3 linked regions of the Homo sapiens genome follow. The main gene of each other region encodes a partner of the protein of the gene in region 3 in a complex. Each region holds a gene or a part of one and is shown on either strand. Other genes may lie near its edges.

Region 1 (7,000 bases), on a different chromosome or scaffold from region 3:
ATTTTTAATTTCTATCAGCATTTCCTCTGCTTACTCTCCCCGTAAACCCAGTAATATGTATGGCTAAGTGGTTAAGAAACTATTATGTAATAAAAAAAAAACAACTTATTATGTAATAATAATGATAAATTTTTTTTTCCTTGTCACTGTAAATCAGCTTTCTTTATAAAAGTTCTTGTTTTGGGTGGTTGTTTTATGAATGCATTATTTCCCCACAAAAGCCAAAATCTCCAAAGTTCTCTGCAGTGTCATTATATAAAGGGAATATACATTTTGACTAGGCTTACCTGTTTATTATGACTTGCTGTAAGAGAATCTTCTAATATTTTTAACTGATTTTGACCTTGATTTGTTTATATTTTTTAAACATTTTTCTCCTGTAGGTTTTCTCTGACATAATTTACACAGTTGCAAGCTGTACTGAAAATGAAGCCAGTCGATACGGAAGGTTTCTTTGCTGCATGTTAGAGACTGTGACCAGGTGGCATAGTGATAGAGCCACATATGAAAAGGTATGACTAATAAAAACCCTTATATTTTACCCATGTATATAATGACCACATCCATTAATATCTAGATAGTTGAGTTTTAAAAGAGAAGCTGAGTTTAAGATTCAGTTGTAAAACTGTGTTTATAAGCACAATTAATTTGTTATTAAAATGTGCTATGTACTTTTTTATTCTATCTCAAACTGACATTCCAAATTAGTATCTTTGTATAAGTTGAACTTTTTGTGACTACCTATCCAAATACGCATGATGTTTTTACACGGAAACATTGATCTAGTCTACTTAAGTTTCAATTTCTGCTATTTTGTGGATCATAATTTTTCTTTAAAAGTGACAAACATTGTTTCCTTAGGAATGTGGAAACTATCCAGGATTCCTTACCATATTACGGGCAACTGGATTTGATGGTGGAAATAAGGCTGATCAATTAGACTATGAAAATTTTCGACATGTTGTACATAAATGGCATTACAAACTAACCAAGGTAAAAAAAAAATTGGATTTTTCAAAGGCAAATTTTTCTCTGTATACTTGTGCTTTTATAATAATGGATCTGAAAATGTTTGTTGTAGGCATCGGTACATTGCCTTGAAACAGGCGAATATACTCACATCAGGAATATCTTGATTGTGCTAACAAAAATACTTCCTTGGTACCCAAAAGTTTTGAATCTGGGTCAAGCTTTGGAAAGAAGAGTACACAAAATCTGCCAAGAAGAAAAAGAGAAGAGGCCAGATCTATATGCATTGGCTATGGGGTAACAAAATTATATTTTAATGTGATTTACAAGACTAGATGACAGAAGGATTCTGAAGACTTTAAAATGTTTTACAGTGTTGAAGTTTATCTTCTGCCTTCAGGAGATTATGGGAGATTATGCGATCATGTTTCCACAGGCTGGTGAGAGTTACCACTTCTGATTATCAACTTCCGGTCTATACTGGATGATAGTTTTTTTAAAGTCATGTATAATATTTCTTGATTGGGAGGAAATATAATTTTATCATCATAGTTAACAGATCTTCAAGAGTAAAAAAAAAAAGCCATCTTAGTTTAAGGATTAGTTTATAGTGAAATTGTAATTTTTAAGAAAGCTGGGCGTTCTATAAAAACCTTCAAGAACTTATTAAAAATTGGTATTTTTTAATTCTCTAGAACCACATAGTAGAATGAATAACTTGCTAATTTTATTCTTAAAAACCTCATGTTTATGTTTTTTGATTTGTGTTTGTATATTTAAACACTTTGTGCGACTTTCAGCTACTCTGGGCAGTTGAAAAGTAGAAAGTCATACATGATACCTGAAAATGAGTTTCATCACAAAGACCCCCCTCCGAGGAATGCAGTTGCCAGTGTGCAAAATGGGCCTGGTGGTGGGCCTTCTTCATCATCAATAGGAAGTGCATCTAAATCGGATGAAAGCAGTACTGAGGAGACTGGTATGCTTATTTGTAGAAACTTATAAGTAATATATTTTATTTCAACAAAGTGAAATGTTTTGTATCACAGAACGAGTACAATGCTGGCTTAGTATTACTTTTTATTCCCTAGATAGGAGTATATAAGCGTTAAGAAGTAATCAGCTTGCTGTTTCTTTCTAATTATTCTCTAATCATTTTGCTCTGAAATTGTAGCTTATTTACATTTAGGGGCTTGTTAAATAAAACCTTACTTTTATTTCAGATAAATCAAGGGAGAGATCTCAGTGTGGTGTGAAAGCTGTTAATAAAGCTTCTAGTACCACACCTAAAGGGAATTCAAGCAATGGAAATAGTGGCTCTAACAGGTAGGAACACTGTGCCATGTGTCATAATTCTAAATTCTTTTTAAAAATGATTTTTATGTATTTTTTTGAGACGGGGTTGGTCTTGCAATGTTGCCCAGGCTGGTCTCGAACTTCTGGCCTCAAGCGATCCACCTGCCTTGGCTTTCCACACTGCTGGAATTAGAGGCATGAGCCACTGCACCTGGCCCTCATAATTCTAAATTCTTCTATGAGTCCTCATGAGTAGAAGGGGAGTGGTTGTTGAGTAATGTGAAAAGTCATTTATGTTGGGCTTTGAAATTTTGTATGTACCCTATTTTGCTGATACGCTTTACATCCTAATTATGTTTTGTATAGTTATGCTTGTATAACGACTTTGTTTCTCCTTCTGGGATATTCAGGGGAATGTAGGTGTGAAGTTAAACAAATATTTTAGGATAGAGGGATTGCTGTGGGTTGAAGCGATTCTTGTGCTTCAGCCTCCCTAGTAGCTGGGATTACAAGCGTGTGCCACCACTCCCGGCTAATTTTTTGTGTGTTTTTAGTAGAGACAGGGTTTTGCCATGTTGACCAGGCTGGTCTCAAACTCCTGGCCTCACGTGATTTGCCTGCTTTGGCCTCCCAAAGTGCTGGATTATAGGTGTGAGCCACCGTGCCCGGCTAATACATCTTTTAAATCTGCAATTAATGAATTTGTTTATGATTTACTGGATAAAGAAATACTTCCTTTTTTCGAGAAGGAGTCTTGCTCTGTCACCCAGGCTGGAGTGCAGTGGTGTGATTTTGGCTCACTGCAACCTCTGCCTCCCAGGTTCAAGTGATTCTCTTGCCTCAGCCTCCAGAGTAGCTGGGATTACAGGTGCCCGCCACCATGCGCAGCTAAGTTTTTTGTATTTTTAGTAGAGACGGGGTTTCACCATGTTGACCAGGCTGGTCTCGAACTCCTGACCTCAAGTGATCCACCCTCCTCAGCCTCCCAGAGTGCTGGGATTACAGGCGTGAGCCACTGCACCCGACCATTACTTCTTCCTTTTTCCTTGTCTTAAAGTTGTCCTTTAGTTTTCAAAGGACTCCCCCTTAGTTCTAGTATTTTTGAAGTTAGTAAGAAACCCTTTATGATATATTTTATCATATATCAAAGGATATATTTTATGATTATTTGTGTTAAAATCCCATGTTTTTATTCTTAAGCAACAAAGCTGTTAAAGAAAATGACAAAGAAAAAGGGAAAGAGAAAGAAAAAGAGAAAAAAGAAAAGACTCCAGCTACTACTCCAGAGGCCAGGGTACTTGGTAAAGATGGTAAAGAAAAACCAAAGGAAGAGCGGCCAAATAAAGATGAAAAAGCAAGAGAGACCAAGGAAAGAACGCCGAAGTCTGACAAAGAGAAAGAAAAATTCAAGAAGGAAGAAAAAGCTAAAGATGAGAAATTTAAGACCACTGTCCCCAACGCAGAATCAAAATCAACTCAAGAAAGGGAAAGAGAGAAGGAGCCATCCAGAGAAAGAGATATAGCAAAGGAAATGAAATCAAAGGAAAATGTTAAAGGAGGAGAAAAAACACCAGTTTCTGGGTCCTTGAAATCACCTGTTCCCAGATCAGATATTCCAGAGCCTGAAAGGGGCAAGTTTACCTTTCTTTATACGTTCTTACGTTTTGTTATTTTAATGTATAGTTGGTTATTGTCTCCTTGTTTTGGTAAGTTATATAGGGGTTTTGCTAGGGGAACTTGTCATACAAGTTGGTGTTTTTTTTTAAGTGTTTGGAAAACTAGAAATGTACCTTATTCTGACTATTTCTTTTTGTCTTAACAGAACAAAAACGCCGCAAAATTGATACTCACCCTTCTCCATCACATTCCTCCACAGTAAAGGTTAGTATAGCCTGAGGAAGGCAGCGTCCATGTTAGGCTCACCTGTTTGGAATACCAGTGTCCTGACTTCCTTCAAGTCTTATGCCAAGCATTCACTGGAGCCACTGGAGGTTTTATATTGCATTAGAAAATGAATTTTTCTATATTGGTGGACTGATTTTTTTTCCTATTGAGTATTTTTATTATAAAAATGTTAAAACTTCAAGGACTTAGCACTAATTTTGTAGTGTTTCAAAGTGCAAGAGAAATTTTACCCAGAAGTGCCTCAACTGCTTTAAGCAGTCTTTTTTGGAGTGCAATGGTAGCTACAAGCAAACGAATCTTTTCAGCAGAATGAAGCCTATTTTTCAGCATATTGAAGAATATATAGCACTGAAGACTTCCTGGATGACACAAGATAAACAAGTTACCTCTGAATTCAAGCTTCTTGATGAGCATCATACCGATGTGTGCCTTCTAAGAAGGAGTCTTGAAAGGAGTTCCATTTTAAAGTCTCCTTGGTGATCAGTTCTCCTGTAGTTGTGTATATTCAGTGAGCATGCAGCTTCTGTTGTATCTTCCCTTGGAGGTTTGTTTATACCCATTGGGTTCCCAACAAGTTGAACCTTGCGTTACGATAAAAGCAGATGTGGCATCCAATCCTACCACCCAGCAAAGAGAAACCCCAGGCATTCAACTGCAGCACAAAATCGTGGGTGTAGCCTTCTTGAAGACTCAGGGTAGCCATTCCTTGCTCCATATTTAATTTTAATTCTAAAGTCATCTAATTTCATGGAATCTTTGAATTTGCAGTACGTTGAACTTTTAAAAAACTGTAAGTTATTAATTGTTCATCAAGAGCACTGTGGTGGAATATCGTAGTTGATTTCTTTTTCTTTCTTTTTTTTTAATGCTTTCTTTGTGTGTGGGAGGTGTGAGATTCACCATGATAGGCACTTTGCAGAAAAAAAAAGTGATTACTCTTATATATTTTGTTTTCTTGTTAATACAATGCCACTGAATTTTTCAGCTAGGATGTGTATATTCATATTAGAGTTAAAAATAAAGTAAAATGTGAATCCTCCCAATTAAAGAAGAACTATGAAAAATATAAGGCAATGTTGTTCTTCCACAGTGACCTCCAGTATTTTAAATTTTTTGTGGAGAAAAAAATGTTTTGCTTTCTTAAACCTCTTAACTATAGCTTAAGTAGAGAGATATGAACAATGTGGCATTGACATTTATTTTTAAATTCTGAGCAGAGAAAGATTTTTATTTCTTACATTGAGTACATTTAATTTAGTTTTTAACATTCCAATTCCATTACATGTTTTTTTTTATTGTTGATATTCATATTGATAATGACATCATGAAATTTATCCTCACAAGAAGTAGCTGGTTTATTTCCAGGTTACAGCCATACTTCCCAAAGTTCCTCTGGGTTCTGAGAACTATGCCAGCTCACCTGTCATCTCCATTCATTTTCTACAGGACAGTCTCATCGAACTCAAGGAATCTTCAGCAAAGGTTTGAGTCTTTTAAAATCATCATGCCTAAGTAAACCAAATGTTCTTTACTTATTTTATTTAGTAGATGTCCTCACCCTAGTACATTCAGTAAGCTGAGATCAGTGGGATAAAGTACTCTGCTTACATTGAATAACCTTCAAAAATATTAAATGTTAAAACTGAAACAACAGATGACAGTGGTCCCTTTTAATGAGATTGTTATAAAATGTGTGTAATGTGGCAACATTTCTATCATCTCTCCTTGCTTGCTGTGTTATACCTTCTCCTTTTATGCTTTTTCAAAATCTGGAAATAAGTTTAACATTCGGGGAAGAGGTTATTTGATTGTTTTGGGTTTATTTAATTTTTCAAAACAAATCTGCCAGGCTGTCTGACTGTTTAGACAACCCAAAATACCAAAAAATAAATTTGATGCATTCACATATCTGTTTTAAAAATGGAACTCATCTCAATCTATAAAAATTCTTTATATATCCTCTGCTGAGGTACCTTTTTGGTAGTTACAGCACAATATCAGGAGATACTGTTAATGTGAAAGAATCATTCCCCTGGACAGGAATACTCGGTGGTTGTGTTTACATGTCAGTATTAATTCTTACCTATTATTCTACTTTCTTGAGTATTCTGCTACTAAAAGTAGTGTGCAGTTTGTGTATCTTATTACAGAGTTTATTTCAGTATTATACTTGAATTGTCCATTGTTCATGTTGTTTTGTCTTTGTTATAAAACGTGTACCCTTCTTTGATTTTCTACTTTGCCTCCTCTTACAAGCTACAAGCAAATGAATCTGCTCAGCAGAATGAAGCCTATTTTTCAGCATAAATATTGCTTGCCATGATTAAAATAGAAATCAGCTAAGCATGATTTCTTTACTGGTGGACCAAATGAAATTTTGAAACAGAGCCAGTTGACATTACTAACTGCTTTTAGATGTATAGATTTATAATGAAATGTCTGTGGATATTGGGCAAATAAGGCACTAATTTTTAAGTTTATATTAGCCAGTGTACCTGTGTCCTAAAATTGTAGCATTGTTTTTTAGAATATACTATATTAATCAAAAGTCTCAGCTATGCTGGGAGAAGTTCCATTTAGTTTTATTTTTTTTCTGATTTGAATGGATGTTTTATTTGAAGTAGATATCGGGGTTATTCTGTAATACGCTATTGAAGAACAAGCCGAAATAACACATTAGACACAACATCAACCTAATGACATTATTTTTGAAAATTCTAAACGTCCAACGTATTTTTGTTTTTTTGCTGTTAGCCATAACGTCACAATACTAACAGAGTTCTCCATACCTAGTAGGAGTTACAAAAATGTTGATATCAGGTTGGAATTA
Region 2 (7,446 bases), on a different chromosome or scaffold from region 3:
CCAGAACTTTCATCTACACATTTCCCCATTTGGTCTTCACAATACTCCTCTAACATACACTTTATTATCTCCATTTATAAAATCTATAAGATTTTATAGATGAAGGAAATAGGAGATAAGACGACAAGCCAAAGTGTCAAAGCTATGAAGTCACAGAGCTATGAAGTGGCGCAATCTCGGCTCACTGCAAGCTCCACCTCCTGGGTTCACGCCATTCTCTCGCCTCAGCCTCCCGAGTAGCTGGGACTACAGGCGCCTGCCACCACACCAGGCTAATTTTTTTGTATTTTTAGTAGAGACGGGGTTTCACCGTGTTAGCCAGGATGGTCTCGATCTCCTGACCTCGTGATCCGCCCGCCTCGGCCTCCCAAAGTGCTGGGATTACAGGCGTGAGCCACCGTGCCCGGCCAAGCCAAGATTTTAAACCCAGATTTGACCCCAAAGCCCCCTTTTCTCTTACACCAGCATTTCTCAACTCCAGCCATTCGCATGCCAACATCACAATTTTTGTCCTATCCATTAAACACTATACTTTTCTTTATTCAAGATTTTTCTTAAAATTGATTCAAAAAAGTTTACTTAAATAAATTTAGCAGCCAGCTGTGGAGGCTCAAGCCTGTAATTCCAGCACTTTGGGAGGCCAAGGTAGGCAGATCACTTGAGTCCAGGAGTTCAAGATCAGCCTGGGCAATATGGCAAAACCCGTCTCTACAAAAAATTAGCCAGGCATGGTGGCATGTGCCTGTAGTCCCAGCTACTCAGGAGGTTGAGGTGAGAGGATGGCTTGAGCCCAGGTGGAGGCTGCAGGGAGCCAATATTGTGCCACTGTACTCCATCCTGGGTAACAGGGCAAGACCCTGTCTCAAAAATAAAAATAAAATAAAATAAATAAAAATAAAATAAATTTAGCTTCAACTGAATAATAAATTCTATGTGCTAGTTCTTCTAGTAGACATTAAGATATTTGCAAAACTGGTTTTTAATGTTCACCCACGCATCACCTGAATCACTCATGGATCAGCAGCTGTATACTTGGGGAAAAACCACACCATTCCGCCTCCAGAGATAAGTCTTGTCAACAAAGTCCAGTGGCCCACACTGAACACATCAATTAAAAATCTCACCAACTTTTTCCATTCTAAAACGCATATTTTCTCACATTTTAGTATCTACACTGTATCTTAAAATGTATCAGAAAGCATTTCAAAATTTTGGGTGTATCACAGTTATTTACCAACTTTCTTTCCTAATGGAACATCTTACGATCAATGAAAACTCAGAGTCCCATACAATATCGGCCTCAATACTTACAACAGAGCCTATAAATGTACTGCACAACTTTCTCCCAGATCACCAAGACCATCCAAGTTTCAACCATTCTAACTCATCAGAATTTTCCAAATTCTCCATGCCTTTGCACATGCCGTTCCCTCCTGGAAATGTCCCATTCCCCACCCACAGCACCCTGACCACTCAACTCCTATGGCTACCCTAAAAGTTTGCTCAAATTTGGTGAGGCCTTCCCTGGCTCCCCTAGGCAGACTTTTGTTTTCATTTCTATTCTGGGTATCCACCTTGCAGACCTCTCCATTATAAAATGAACCATATCTTGCTATGTTATTTGTATATATATGTCTTCTCCCCGCAGGGGAGGTCCTTGGAGCTGGAAACTCTTATTCAGCTCAGGATGTCTCATACACAGCTGAGTGCCAAGCACAGAAAAGATATTCGGAAAATGGTTGTTGAATGAATCCAAACAGCTTATCTTCCTATTGCCCTCTCTCTGAATAGTCACCTTTAGTGTTCACAGTGGCAATGCATTTTGTAGTCCTCACATCCCAGATGCGAATGGTTTTATCTCCGGACGCCGTAACAAATAGGTCAGGATTACTTGGATGCCAACAAAGCTGGTCCACACTATCCCCATGTCCCCGATAATTGTTTTCTTTGACCTGAAAGAACAGAATCCAGATGTGACTTCACATAGATGTAACTGCCTCCGCATGTAACTTTATAAGCTTATTCAAACCAAAGTATGCTGGGACCAGTAAAGATCTGGGTAATTCAGAATCCAGTTCCTCCAAGCCCTTTCTCCCTTCTCTTCTCCGCAGGCCTTCTGAACTGTTTTTCTCAGCTTCCACACCTATGCCCTTACTTTTGTGCCCTCCCTGGCCTTCTCCTCCTTCCTGGTTTTCCACCCTTACTCTACCACCAACGTACCACCAACGTACCACCACCAACGTACCACCACCACCACCACCACCACCACCACAGCCCCTAGCCACTTCTTATCAGCACAGGATTCGACTCCAAACCAGTAAGGCTCCCATCGCAGCCCTGTCCCATCCACCCTCTCCTCACCTTCACCCGCCATCGCCAACCTCCTTACTTCCACACTCTTCACACGCCCCCAGTCTTCCTCTCCTCACCCCTCACGACCCCGTCACCCCCACACTCCACCTTCTCCCTACTCCCTCCTCATCTCCACACTCCCCCTTTCCCCTTCCCTCAAACCCACTCTCCTTTCACCCCCGCGGCTCCGTTCGCCCCCATTCGCTCTCCCACTACCGCACCTCACTTCACCACGGCCCCTCTCCCTAGCCTGAGCCGAGCCCCGGCAGCTCACCAACCGGTCCTTCTCCAGCAAGAAGACGCTGGCCGTCTTGTCGAAGGACCCCGAGGCTAGGCGACGCCCGTCGCAACTCCAGGCCACCGAGTGCACCTTGGCGCTGTGCGCCAGGAACTCGCGCGTCTTGCTGTGGCCCCGGAACAGCTCCTGCATCCCAAGCACGTAGCGCGACGGGCCGCTGCTCACTGAGCACCACGGGGCCATCGAGCCGGGGCCGCTCTGGCCCAACGCCGAGGGCCCCATGGCTGCAGCGGGGACCGCCATGCCGAGCTCCCCAGCTTCCAACTCACAACACTGCAGCAGCCTCCACGGCGCAGTCAGTCCTGGCGCCGCTGCCGCACGCATGCGCCCGGAAGAGCGACGGCCCCTCTGCGCAGGCGCGCTGTACCCCGCCCCGGAAGGGACTACAAATCCCGGTATGCAGCGCGTGCCCGCGTCTGCTTACTTAGTAATATTTGGTTCTTTTAACTCCAAATATGCTTCACACTTAACGATTCCGAGTTTTTTTAGTGTTCTTATTTCTCCCTTACCTATTCTTTGGTAGATATATGTGTATTCCTGTTTAATCGAATAAAAGAACCAACACTAACCTTCTAAACAGTTAACTCATCACCTTTCTTCTGGGGTTGTTCCGTAATCCCTAGTCCCCTCCCTTAAGAGCAGAAAGCTCTGGTCTTTTTGCTGGAGAAGGACCAGCTGGTGAGCTTGTCCCATGAAAAGGGCTAGCGGGTGTGGAGTGAGGGAAGAGGTGTTAAGAAGGGGTCTGGAGGTTTTGTTTTTTTTTTTTAAATAAAAATGGATTTTTTGTTTTTAAAAGGTAATGGCAGAGGCGTGTGAACCAGAGCAACTCTATCTTAAATAGGAACTGGGTAAAATGAGGCTTAAACCTACTGGGCTGCATTCCCAGACTGTTAAGGCATTCTAATCACAGGATGAAATAGGAGGTCAGCACAAAATACAGGTCATAAAGACCTTGATGATAAAACAGGTTGCAGTAAAGGAACCGGCCAAAACCCACCAAAACCAAAATGGCGATGAGAGTGACCTCTGGTCATCCTCACCTCTACACTCCCACCAGTGCCAGGACAGTTTGTAAATGCCATGGCAATGTCAGGAAGTTACCCTATACGGTCTAAAAAAGGGAGGCATGAATAATCCACCACTTGTTTAGCATATCATCAGGAAAAACCATAAAAATGCGCAACCAGCGGCCCTCGGGGCTGCTCTGTCTATGGAGTGGCCATTCTTTTATTCCCTTTACTTTCTTAATAAACTTGCTTTCACTTTGCACTGCGGACTTGCCCTGAATTCTTTCCTGAGTGAGATCCAAGAACCCACTCCTGGGGTCTGGATTGGGACCCTTTTCCTGTAACAGTATTACATGCACATGATTGTAAATATAAAAATAAAAGATATAGAGTGAAAAGTAAATGTCCACCTGCGTATCCACCCCACCTCTCATATCTCCCTTAAACCAGTGGCTTCTTGCTGGAGAAAAAAGGGGTGGTGAGCTGCCAGCGCCAGTCAAGGCCCTGGAGAAGAGCTGAGGGGGGAAGGTTTTGGTGGTGAGTAGTAGTGGTAAATGTGTTTAAAAACCCAATTTTTAAAAGGCAACACGTGCACTTGGTAACAAATGTAAAATGTATAAAAGGGAATAGATTGAAAAGCTTCCCTCCATCCTGTGTCCCCAAACTTCTCTTCTGAAAAAGTTAAATTTCTTGTGTGGCCTTCCAGAGACAGTGTAAGTAAGCACCTGGGCAAGGTAGATAGGTGTGTGCATAACCTCTCCCAACACACTGCCAAAAAGGTAGCATTCCTTACACAACTTGCTTCCTATGGTAAATATGTATAGGAAATCATTTCTTGTCAGAAAATGCAGACGTCTCATTCTTCTCAATGGTGGCAGTCTTTATATGAATATATAATATTCAACTGATCCCTTCATGAATTTGCTTTTAGAACAATATTAGAACAATATTGCAGTGAATATCCCTATACAACCTTCATTGTGCACATCTGCACTTTTTTATTTGGATATATATTGCCAAAACACCTATGAAGAGGTTTAATAATTTATACTTCCACCAGCAACATAAGAAAGTGTCAGAAGGTCCTAGGTACTAAATGAGTACACATATAAAGCATATGGCTCTCAGAAGGACCGTAGGAAATAAGGTCCCTATCTTTCCCCAATCTTTTCCCTACCCCATTGCAACCAGAAATTCTTGGAAACTACAAAGCTTTTCAGACTCCAAGAATACCACTGAAGTCTCTAAAATCTTGGAGTAGGAAACTATTTGGTGTCTAGTTTTCTTCCTTACCCCTCTTTTTCAGGAATCTTCATATATATATATATATTTAGATATTTTTCCTACATTTTCCCTGTATTTTGTATTTTTTTTTTTTTTTTTTTTTTTTTTTTGCTGCATACACTGAGGATTTACAAGTCCCTGCCAAGATACAAAAACTGAAGTAGAAAGAGGTAAAATGTCCTGGTCCAGGTCACATGACTATCATGTGACAGAGCAAAGGTTAGAACTCAGATGTTACTGACTCTAAAATCTACACTCTGATTCTCAGTATCTGAAATCACGTAAATGTGATTCTTTGTATTTCTGCATTCATTTTGTATTTTTGTATGTAATGTATATTTTTTATTTTTTAATTTTTTTTTGAGATGAAGTTTTGCTCCTATTGCCCAGGCTGGAGTGCAGTGCGATCTTGGCTCACTGCAACTTCCGCCTCCCAGGTTCAACCAAGTCTTCTGCCTCAGTCTCCCGAGTAGCTGGGATTACAAGCACCGCCACCATGCCTGGCTAATTTTTTGTATTTTCGGTTGAGATGGGGTTTCGCTATGCTGGCCAGGCTGGTCTCGAACTCCTGATGTCAGGTGATCCACCCGTCTCTGCCTCCCAAAGTGCTGGGATTACAGGCATGAGCCACCGCGCCCGGCCTGTAATGTATGTTTTTTACTTAATTTCCCCTTGTGTTCCTTTTCTATATTCTGTATACATGGATGTTAGAAACTCAGTTGTGATAAGTATATCCGACTGCTCTTGCCTGAGACAGAAACTGGTATAACATTTCAAGTTGGACTAGCACACATCTGGGGGCAATGTTGAGACTGAAGTCAGAGTCTCTCAAAGGGGAGATAAAATTGAGGGGAACAGAGTCATGGGCCATTTTTTAAAACTTTTTATTTGGAAAAATTCAAATTTACAGAAAAGTTGCAAGAATACTAAAAAGCACTGCTATTCCTGTGACACAGATTCACCAAATTGTAGCATTTTGTTCCACTTTTTTTCTTTTTTTAGTTTTATTTTTATTTATTTATTTTTTTGAGACACAGTCTTACTCTGTCACCCAGGCTGGAGTGCAGTGGCGCGATCTTGGCTCACTGCAACCTCCGCTTCCCAGGTTCAAGCGATTCTCATGTCTCAGCCACCTGAGTAGCTGGGATTACAGGCATGCACCCCCACACCCGCTAATTTTTTGTATGTTTTGTAGAAATGGAGTTTCTCCATGTTGGCCAGGCTGGTCTCAAACTCCTGGCCTCACCCGCCTTGGCCTCCCAAAGTGCTGAGATTACAGGCCTGAGTCACTGTGCCCAGCCTCCATTTGCTTTCTCTACATATATCTACGTTACTACTCTTTTGTCTAAACATTTGGCAATTGTGCATTAGTCCGTTCTCACATTGCTATAGGGAACTACCTGAGACTGGGTAATTTATAAAGAAAAGAGGTTTAATTGGGCCAGGCGCGGTGGCTCACACCTGTAATTCCAGCACTTTGGGAGGTCAAGGCGGGTGGATCACGAGGTCAGGAGTTCAAGACCAGCCTGGCCAAGATGATGAAACCTCGTCTCTACTTAAAATATAATAAAATTAGCCAGGCGTGGTGGCGGGCGCCTGTAGTCCCAGCTACTTGGAAGGCTGAGGCAGGAGAATGGCGTGAACCCGGGAGGCGGAGCTTGCAGTGAGCCTAGATTGCACCACTGCACTCCAGCCTGGGCTACAGAGCAAAAAGCTGTCTCAAAAAAAAAAAAAAAAAAAAAAGAGGTTTAATTGGCTCGTGGTTCCATAGGCTGTACAGGAAGCATGGCTGGGCACGTCTCAGGAAACAGAGAGACAGGGAGGTGCCACATACTTTTAAACAGCCAGATGTCATAAGAACTCAGTCACTGTAACGAGAACAGCAAGGGGGAAATTCGCTCCGATGATCCAGTCACCTCTCACCAGGCCCCTCCTCCAACACTGGGGTTTACAATTGGAAATTTTCTCAGGGACACAAATCCAAGACATATCACATTGTAAGTTGCATACATCTTACCCTTTACCCCTAAATATTTCAGTATTTCCTAAGAAATAGGATGTTCTGTTTCCTACCCCCAGTATAGTTATCGATGTTGGTAAATTGAACAGAAACATGGAATTTTATTTAATCTACTGTCTGTATTTCATTTGTGTCAATTTAGCCAGAAATGTTCTTTATAGCCCTTCTTTTCTTTCAGTACATGTTCCAGTCTAGAACCTCATACTATATTTAGTTATTATATGTCCTTAGTCTCCTTGAATCTATAAAGGTTCCCCAGCATTTCTGTGCCTATTATGACATCAACATTTTTGAAGAATGCAGTTGATGGACCGTTTTTACAGTTCCTTCTCTCACCTAGAAATTCTCTCTTAGGAGCTGATCAAAATCAAACTAAGAAATTTTTTACACATGTGAGTCTTGGGGACTTCAGGGTCATTCAAGGCAGAATCAGGCCATAAATAGTAATGCCAGAGATGACAGGATGTGTAGAGGGACAGGGGAAA
Region 3 (7,105 bases):
GAACTCCAAAATAAACCAGTCTCTCAGAACCTTCATACCCATCTTATGCTCCCCTAATAAATTTACATCTAAGTCCTCCAATGACTGATGTTAAAGCAATGTGGCCAAAGCAGTGGCACATTACCAGAGACTAACCTTACTCTATCCAACTCACCTCTGTTTCATCTCCCAGTACATCTTCTTCATTTGCCTCCTCTTCAGCTAAAGAATATTAAAATATTCAGGTCAAGCCCTGCTACAAAACCATCTTGATCACTTACCAAGGTTAAAATTATAATCACTTTGCTTTCCCCCAAAAAATCCAACAGTGAAGGCAGAAACTGATGCACATAAAATCTGCTACATCTGGAGAAGATAAAACCAGATTTCTACCTAACATTAATTACAAATGTGAACTCCAGTTGGACTGAAGAACTAAATGTGAAGTCAAACTAGAGAATTAATTTTAAAAGTAATGTTGGGCCAGGCACCGTGGCTCTCTGTAATCCCAGCAATCTGGGAGGCAGAGGCAGGTGGATCGTTTGAACCTAGGAGTTCAAGCGACCAGCTTGGGGAACACAGCGAAACCCCGTCTTTACAAAAAACATAAAAAAATTAGCTGGGTGTGGGGGTGTGCGCCTATAGTCTTAGCTACTGGGGAGGCTGAAGTGGGAACATTACTTGAACCCAGAAGGCAGAGGCTGCAGTGAGCTGAGATCATGTCACTGCACTCCAGCCTGGGTGACAGAGCAAGACCCAGTCTTGAATAACAAACAAAAAAAGTATGTGGAAAAGTATCTTTGAGATTTAGTGGTGGGGAAAGATTTGTTTAAAAGAAAAACAACCCAGAACCAAAAGTAAGAGGTGAAAAATTGAAGATTTTTCAAAACTAAGTACTTCTACTTAAGGATAGCACAAAGAAACTTAAAAGACAAATGACAAGACATTTGTTTTTGTTGAGACAGAGTCTTACTCTGTCGCCCAGATAAAGTGCAATGGCACAATCACAGCTCCCTGCAGCCTCCCCCTCCTGGGCTCAAGGGATCCTCCTGCCTTAGCCTCCCAAGTAGGTAGGACTACAGGTGCACATCACCACACCCAGCTAATTTTATTATTTTTCTTAGAGATGGGATCTCACTATGCTGCCCAGACTGGTCTCAAACTCCGGGCCTCAAGAGATCATACCACCTTAGCCTCCCAAAGTGCTGAGTTACAGGCATGAACCACCCCGCACAGCCAAAGAAGATATTTGTGCCTAAAATCAACAAAACAATAGTTATTAGAATATAAAAGAAATGCCTGCAAGCCAACAGGCAAATTATGGGAACCTCAACAGAAAAATGGGCAAAGAAGAAACCCAAAGAATTGTGAAATGTTTAAACTTTTTTCATGGAGAACATAAAACAGCCAACAAATTAGCAAAACTTAGGCCACTTGATAGGACAGTGCCAAGTTTAGGTTTGTGAAGATACAAGAACCCTTATGTACTAGTAATGAGACTGCAGATCTACAGAGCAATTCTGGAAAATAATTTGGGAGTCCTTAGTCACATTAAGTATATATTTATGAATATTAATTAGCAATACCATTCTTGGGCATATACCCCAAAAAGACTTTCACAGGAACATAAGAGCATAAAATAAGTAGTTCATAATAATATACTATATACTATTAGTATATAGGATATAGTATACTATATCCTACAGGTTAAGCATCACCAATCTGAAAATTCAAAACCTAAAATGCTCCTAAATCTAAAACTTTCTGAAGGCTGATATGATACAAGTGGAAAACCCCACACCTAACCTCATGCAATGGGTCACAGTCAAAACTTTGTTTCATGTACAAAATTATTTTAAATACTGTATAAAACTACTTTCAGATATGTGGATAAGAAACAAATAAATTTTGTGTTTAGGCTTGGATCTCACCCCCAAGATATCTCATTATATATATACACAAATATTCCAAAATCCGAAAAAACTAAAATCTGAAACACTTCTAGTCCCAAGCATTTCAAATATATAACACTCAACCCATAGTATAATATATACTATATACTATTATATACATATAGTATACTATAAGTAGTATCACTTATAGTAGCAGAGGCTTGGTGGCAATAAAATTTTCTGTCACCGAGTGAATTAAGTAAAATGTGTGGTTATCCATCATTGAATGCTATGCAGGAATTAGAATCAACAGACTAGATAACTACACAGTCACATTCCACATGGACGCATCTTTAAAAAAAAAAAAACACAATACTTAGTGAAAAAAATGAGAAATAAAGCAAGGCTATGGCCAGTTATGTAATTACCAATTATATAAATGAAAACATTCTACAAAACAACACTACATAGTTTACCAGGAAAAACACCAAAAAAATACATTCAAACACATTAGAACGGGTGCCTAAATGGGTTGGGGAGAAAGTGAAATGAGGAATAGAAATAAAAGGGAATACGTAAATAAAAATTAGATAGAGGACTTGTACAACCTAAGATGTAGGTTGTACAAGATGGCTGGGCGCGGTGGCTCACAACTGTAATCCCAGCACTTTGGGAGGCTGAGGCGGGTGGCTCACCTGAGGTCAGGAATTCTAGACCAGCCCAACCAATATGGTGAAACCCCGTCTCTACTAAAAATACAAAAATCAGCCAGGCATGGTGGTGCTCGCCTGTAGTCCCAGCTGCTTGGGAGGCTGAGACAGGAGAATTGGTTGAAGCCGGGAGACAGAGGTTGCAATGAGCTGAAACTGCGTCACTGCACTCCAGCCTGGGCAACAGAGCAAGACTCCATCTCAAAAAAAAAAAAGAGAGAGTTTTCTTGATGCCGTTAATTAAGAGCTTACATTGCTAATGACCTGAAAAAAAAAAAAGAAATCTTTTCAGTGTCAAAGCCTGAAAATCCCCTCACTCACATCACTCCGCCTCCACAAAGTACTCACCATGTTCTTCAAGATATGCCTGGAGTCTGTGGATAAGATCTTGCTTTATTCCCTTGGTCTCCAAACCACGAGCAAGACATTCTTGCTTTAGTTCGGCAAGCTGAGGGGAAAAAAATAAAACTTTTCCTTAGTTAACAGGATGAACACCAGTGAATAAAATGGTAGTTCCCACAAGGAAAAGAAAAAAAGAAAATGAAGTTCCATCCCAAATTACTGCCCTTAATTCTACCAAGGCTCTAGGTCCACAAAGATGATCCATTTTCCTCTAACGATATTCAATATACAAGAGGAACTGCCTAACAGATGCTGAAGAATAAACATCACACTTTAATAAAAAACCTCATCTATTTGTATACCTACTAACTGTCACAAATCTCTAGTTATTTCTAAATATTCTGAGGGGGGAAAAAGGTTTTTTTCTTAAGACTACTGTGGCAGCCAGCATATTGGAAGAATGAACCTTCAAGTAGAAAATCCAATGATCTAAAAGCAGATTCTCCTTACCACTTATTATCCCAGATCCGTTATTACAATCTACCATATACATGCATACAGGTCTAACCACCATAGAATTAGGTAGATGCATTAGCTAATGTGAACAATGAATTGATTAAAGGATCTGTGTCAAAATGGGAAGAAATATCTAATGGCATACCATAGAGTTCTGCTGAAGATTTAACTTATCTAAAGATATAAAAGCTATGTTCATCAATTTTACAGACAATAGGAGGAAGGAGAATTGATGGATTATTGACATAACTAAGCTTAAAAAATGCAACACGGAAACAGAAAAAAAAAAAAACACTTCTTCAGGACTAATAATAAGCCAAAACAAAGACTCAATTTAGTAGGAATAAGGTATACATATAACTTCCTACACTTAGATTCAAAACTTCAGTTATATAAAAACTGGGTAAGGGAGGATTGGCTCAATAGTAACTCAAAGGATAAAGACATCAGAATTTTAGGCAAAGAAGGTTAACAGTATGATTTGCTACCTATAAGTCATAGGTAACTGAAATATAGACTCCATAATAAACGATGTAATGGCCTTACTGGGCTCTATACTCTTATTTTACGAAGCACAACGACATGCTGACCCAGGAGAACAAGCAGGAAAGAAAGGCTCCAGAAATTCTATATGCAGATCAACACACAGATAGATCTTTGGTCTGAAAGATGACCTTTTTTGTTTTGGAGTACAGATCTATGACCAATCAGTAGAAGCTAGAAGGCAGACTCCTATAGACAAAAAATTTTACAACTATGGAGGATGCTCTGCATCTCTACGTTTTTCAGCTAGGAGAACATTTCATAATGAAAAGTGGAGAGTTTTTTAAAACATATCACAATGGCCGGGCGCGGTGGCTCACGCCTGTAATCCCAGCACTTTGGGAGGCCGAGGCGAGTGGATCACAAGGTTAGAAGATCGAGACCATCCTGGCTAACACAGTGAAACCCCGTCTCTACTAAAAATACAAAAATTAGCCAGGCGTGGTGGCAGGCGCCTGTAGTCCCAGCTACTCGGGAGGCTGAGGCAGAAGAATGGCGTGAACCCTGGAGGCGGAACTTGCAGCGAGCTGAGATCGACCACTACACTCCAGCCTGGGCGAAAGTGCGAGACTCCGTCTCAAAAATAAATAAATAAAATAAATAAAACATATTACAACGACTAGCAAAGCATTTAGTGAGTGGGGCGGGCAGGCAGGGATGCTATGAACAGAACTGCCCAACCCAACAAGCTGAAAGCAACCTCTACTGAGGAACATGGTAGGTAATCACCCATTAAAAATTATTTTTAGGCCAGGGACAGTGGCTCACGCCTGTTATCCCAGCACTCTGGGAGGCCAAGGCGGGCAGATCATCTGAGGTCAGGAGTTCAACAGCAGCCTAGCTAACATGGTGAAACCCTGTCTCTACTAAAACTACAAAACTAGACCAGGTGCGGTGGCTCACGCCTGTAATCCCAGCACTTTGGGGGGCCTAGGCAGGCAGATCAACTGAAGTCAGGAGTTCAAGACCAGCCTGGCCAACACGGTGAAACCCTGTCTCTACTAAAAATACAAATATTAGCTGGGCATGGTGGCAGGTGCTTATATTCACCCAGCTATTCAGGAGGCTGAGACAAAAGAATTGCTTAAACCTGGGAGGCGGAGGTTGCAGTGAGCCAAAATCGTGCCATTGCACTCCAGCAGGTGAAAGAGTGAGACTGTCTCAAAAAAATAAATAAAAATAAAAATAAAAATATAAAATACAAAACTAGCCAGGCATGGTGGCACATGCCTGTAATCCCAGCTATTGAGGAGGCTGAGGCAGGAGAACAGCTTGAACCTGGGACGCAGAGGTTGCAGTGAGCCGAGATCACATCATTGCGCTCCAGCCTGGATGCCAAGAACAAAATTCTGTCTCAAAAAAAAAAAAAATTATTTTTAAGGCTTTTGCCAGTTTTAAAAAAAAAAATGACTGCAGAGTGACTGGAGAGCATAGCCTCTGAAGCCAGACTACTTAGGTTTGAATTCCAGTTTTACTACTTGTAACCTTATGTGAATAACTTCACCTCTCTATGCCTCAGTTTCCTTACTTGTGAAATGGGAATGATAACAGTACCTATTTCATAGGGTTGTTATGAAGACTAAATTAAAAAAAATTTTTTTTTTTTTTTTTGAGACGGAGTCTTGCTCTGGTGCCCTGGCTGGAGTACAGTGGCATGATCTCGGCTCACTGCAACCTCTGCGTTCCAGGTTCAAGCAACTGTCCTGCCTCAGCCTCCTGAGTAGCTGGGATTATAGGCATGTGCCACCATGCCTGGCTAATTTTTGTATTTTTACTAGAAGCAGGGTTTTACCATGTTGACTAGGCTGGTCTCAAACTCCTGACCTCAAGTGATCCACCTGCCTTGGTCTCCCAAAGTTCTGGGATTACAGGTGTGAACCATAAATTAAAGGAAAAAAAAAATTTCTTGAGACGGAGTCTCGCTCTATCACCCATGCTGGAGTGCAATGGCACGACCTCAGCTCACTGCAACCTCTGCCTCCCGATTAGCTGGGACTACAGGCGCATGCCACCATGTCCAGCTAATTTTTGTATTTTTAGTAGAGACGGGGTTTCACCATATTGGCCAGGCTGGTCTCGAACTCCTGACCTTGTGATCCACCTGCCTCCGCCTCCCAAAGTGTTGGGATTACAGGCATGAGCCACCGCGCCCGGCCTTAAATCAAGAATTTTATAAAGCATTTAGAACAGTGCTTGACAGCCAAAAAATGCTTTATATTTATTAAGTACTAAATCACTGGTCTCAGATTTGAGAGTTTCACAAATCAATGCATTTTTTATTTTATTTATTTTTAGAGACAGTGGTCTCGCCATGTTGCCCGGGCTGAACTTAAACTCTTGAACTCAAGAAATCCTCCCACCCGAACCTCCAGCTGGGACTACAGGTACACACCACTGTGCCCAGCTCAATGTACTTTTAAATAGGTAGGCTGATAAGGTTGCTTTTTACAATATTCCAATCAGGTCACGGAGCAATACTTTCGCAATAACAATAAAAATCAATTACTACAAAAATGAGCGTAGTGACTTGGATATAGCAGTGACATCAAACTGCTATAAAACTTTCTAAAAGCTTACACTCGGTTTTTGTATTTATCTCACTACTAACCAGGAACAGCTAGTTCATGGACCAGCACCCCAAGGACTGTGAACCACGCCTTAAGTAACATTATAAGTGATCTTTAATGTCCATTTATTAAGTAACAATCTTGATCTTGGTGGCTTATGCTTACAATTCCAGCCCCTTGTGAGGCCAAGGCGGGAGGATTGCCTGAATCCAGAAGTTAGAGACCAGCCTGGGAAACACCATGAGATGCCATCTCTATTAAAAAAAATTTTTGGTCGGGCGTGGTGGCTCACTCCTGTAATCCCAGCACTTTGAGAGGCCGAGGCAGGCGGATCATGAGGTCAGGAGATAGAGACCATCCTGGCTAGCACGGTGAAACCCCGTCTCTACTAAAAATACAAAAAAAAAAAAAAAAAATTAGCCGGGCGCGGTGGCGGGCGCCTGTAGTCCCAGCTCCTCAGGAGGCTGAGGCAGGAGAACGGCGTGAACCCGGGAGGCGGAGCTTGCAGTGAGCCGAGATCGTGCCACTGTACTTCCACCGGGGTGACAGAGCGAGA

The links.
Region 1: SARNP (region 3) and THOC2 share a complex: the UniProt entries of both Homo sapiens proteins name them as parts of the transcription/export (TREX) complex.
Region 2: SARNP (region 3) and THOC3 share a complex: the UniProt entries of both Homo sapiens proteins name them as parts of the transcription/export (TREX) complex.

Annotation. Positions count from the first base shown.
Region 1 is NC_000023.11:123,618,053-123,625,052, reverse strand, and holds part of THOC2 (THO complex subunit 2), read left to right. Parts: intron 1-383; coding exon 384-512; intron 513-861; coding exon 862-993; intron 994-1,081; coding exon 1,082-1,266; intron 1,267-1,343; coding exon of another isoform or gene 1,344-1,409; intron 1,410-1,769; coding exon 1,770-1,948; intron 1,949-2,192; coding exon 2,193-2,295; intron 2,296-3,465; coding exon 3,466-3,896; intron 3,897-4,087; coding exon 4,088-4,146; exon of another isoform or gene 4,147-4,865; intron 4,866-5,535; coding exon of another isoform or gene 5,536-5,616; coding exon 5,617-5,652; intron 5,653-7,000. UniProt on the Homo sapiens protein: Component of the THO subcomplex of the TREX complex which is thought to couple mRNA transcription, processing and nuclear export, and which specifically associates with spliced mRNA and not with unspliced pre-mRNA.
Region 2 is NC_000005.10:175,965,316-175,972,761, forward strand, and holds the start of THOC3 (THO complex subunit 3), read right to left. Parts: upstream 3,001-7,446; 5' UTR 2,894-3,000; coding exon 2,627-2,893; intron 1,953-2,626; coding exon 1,796-1,952; intron 1-1,795. UniProt on the Homo sapiens protein: Component of the THO subcomplex of the TREX complex which is thought to couple mRNA transcription, processing and nuclear export, and which specifically associates with spliced mRNA and not with unspliced pre-mRNA.
Region 3 is NC_000012.12:55,800,700-55,807,804, forward strand, and holds part of SARNP (SAP domain-containing ribonucleoprotein), read right to left. Parts: intron 3,030-7,105; coding exon 2,930-3,029; intron 202-2,929; coding exon 155-201; intron 1-154. UniProt on the Homo sapiens protein: Binds both single-stranded and double-stranded DNA with higher affinity for the single-stranded form. Specifically binds to scaffold/matrix attachment region DNA. Also binds single-stranded RNA. Enhances RNA unwinding activity of DDX39A.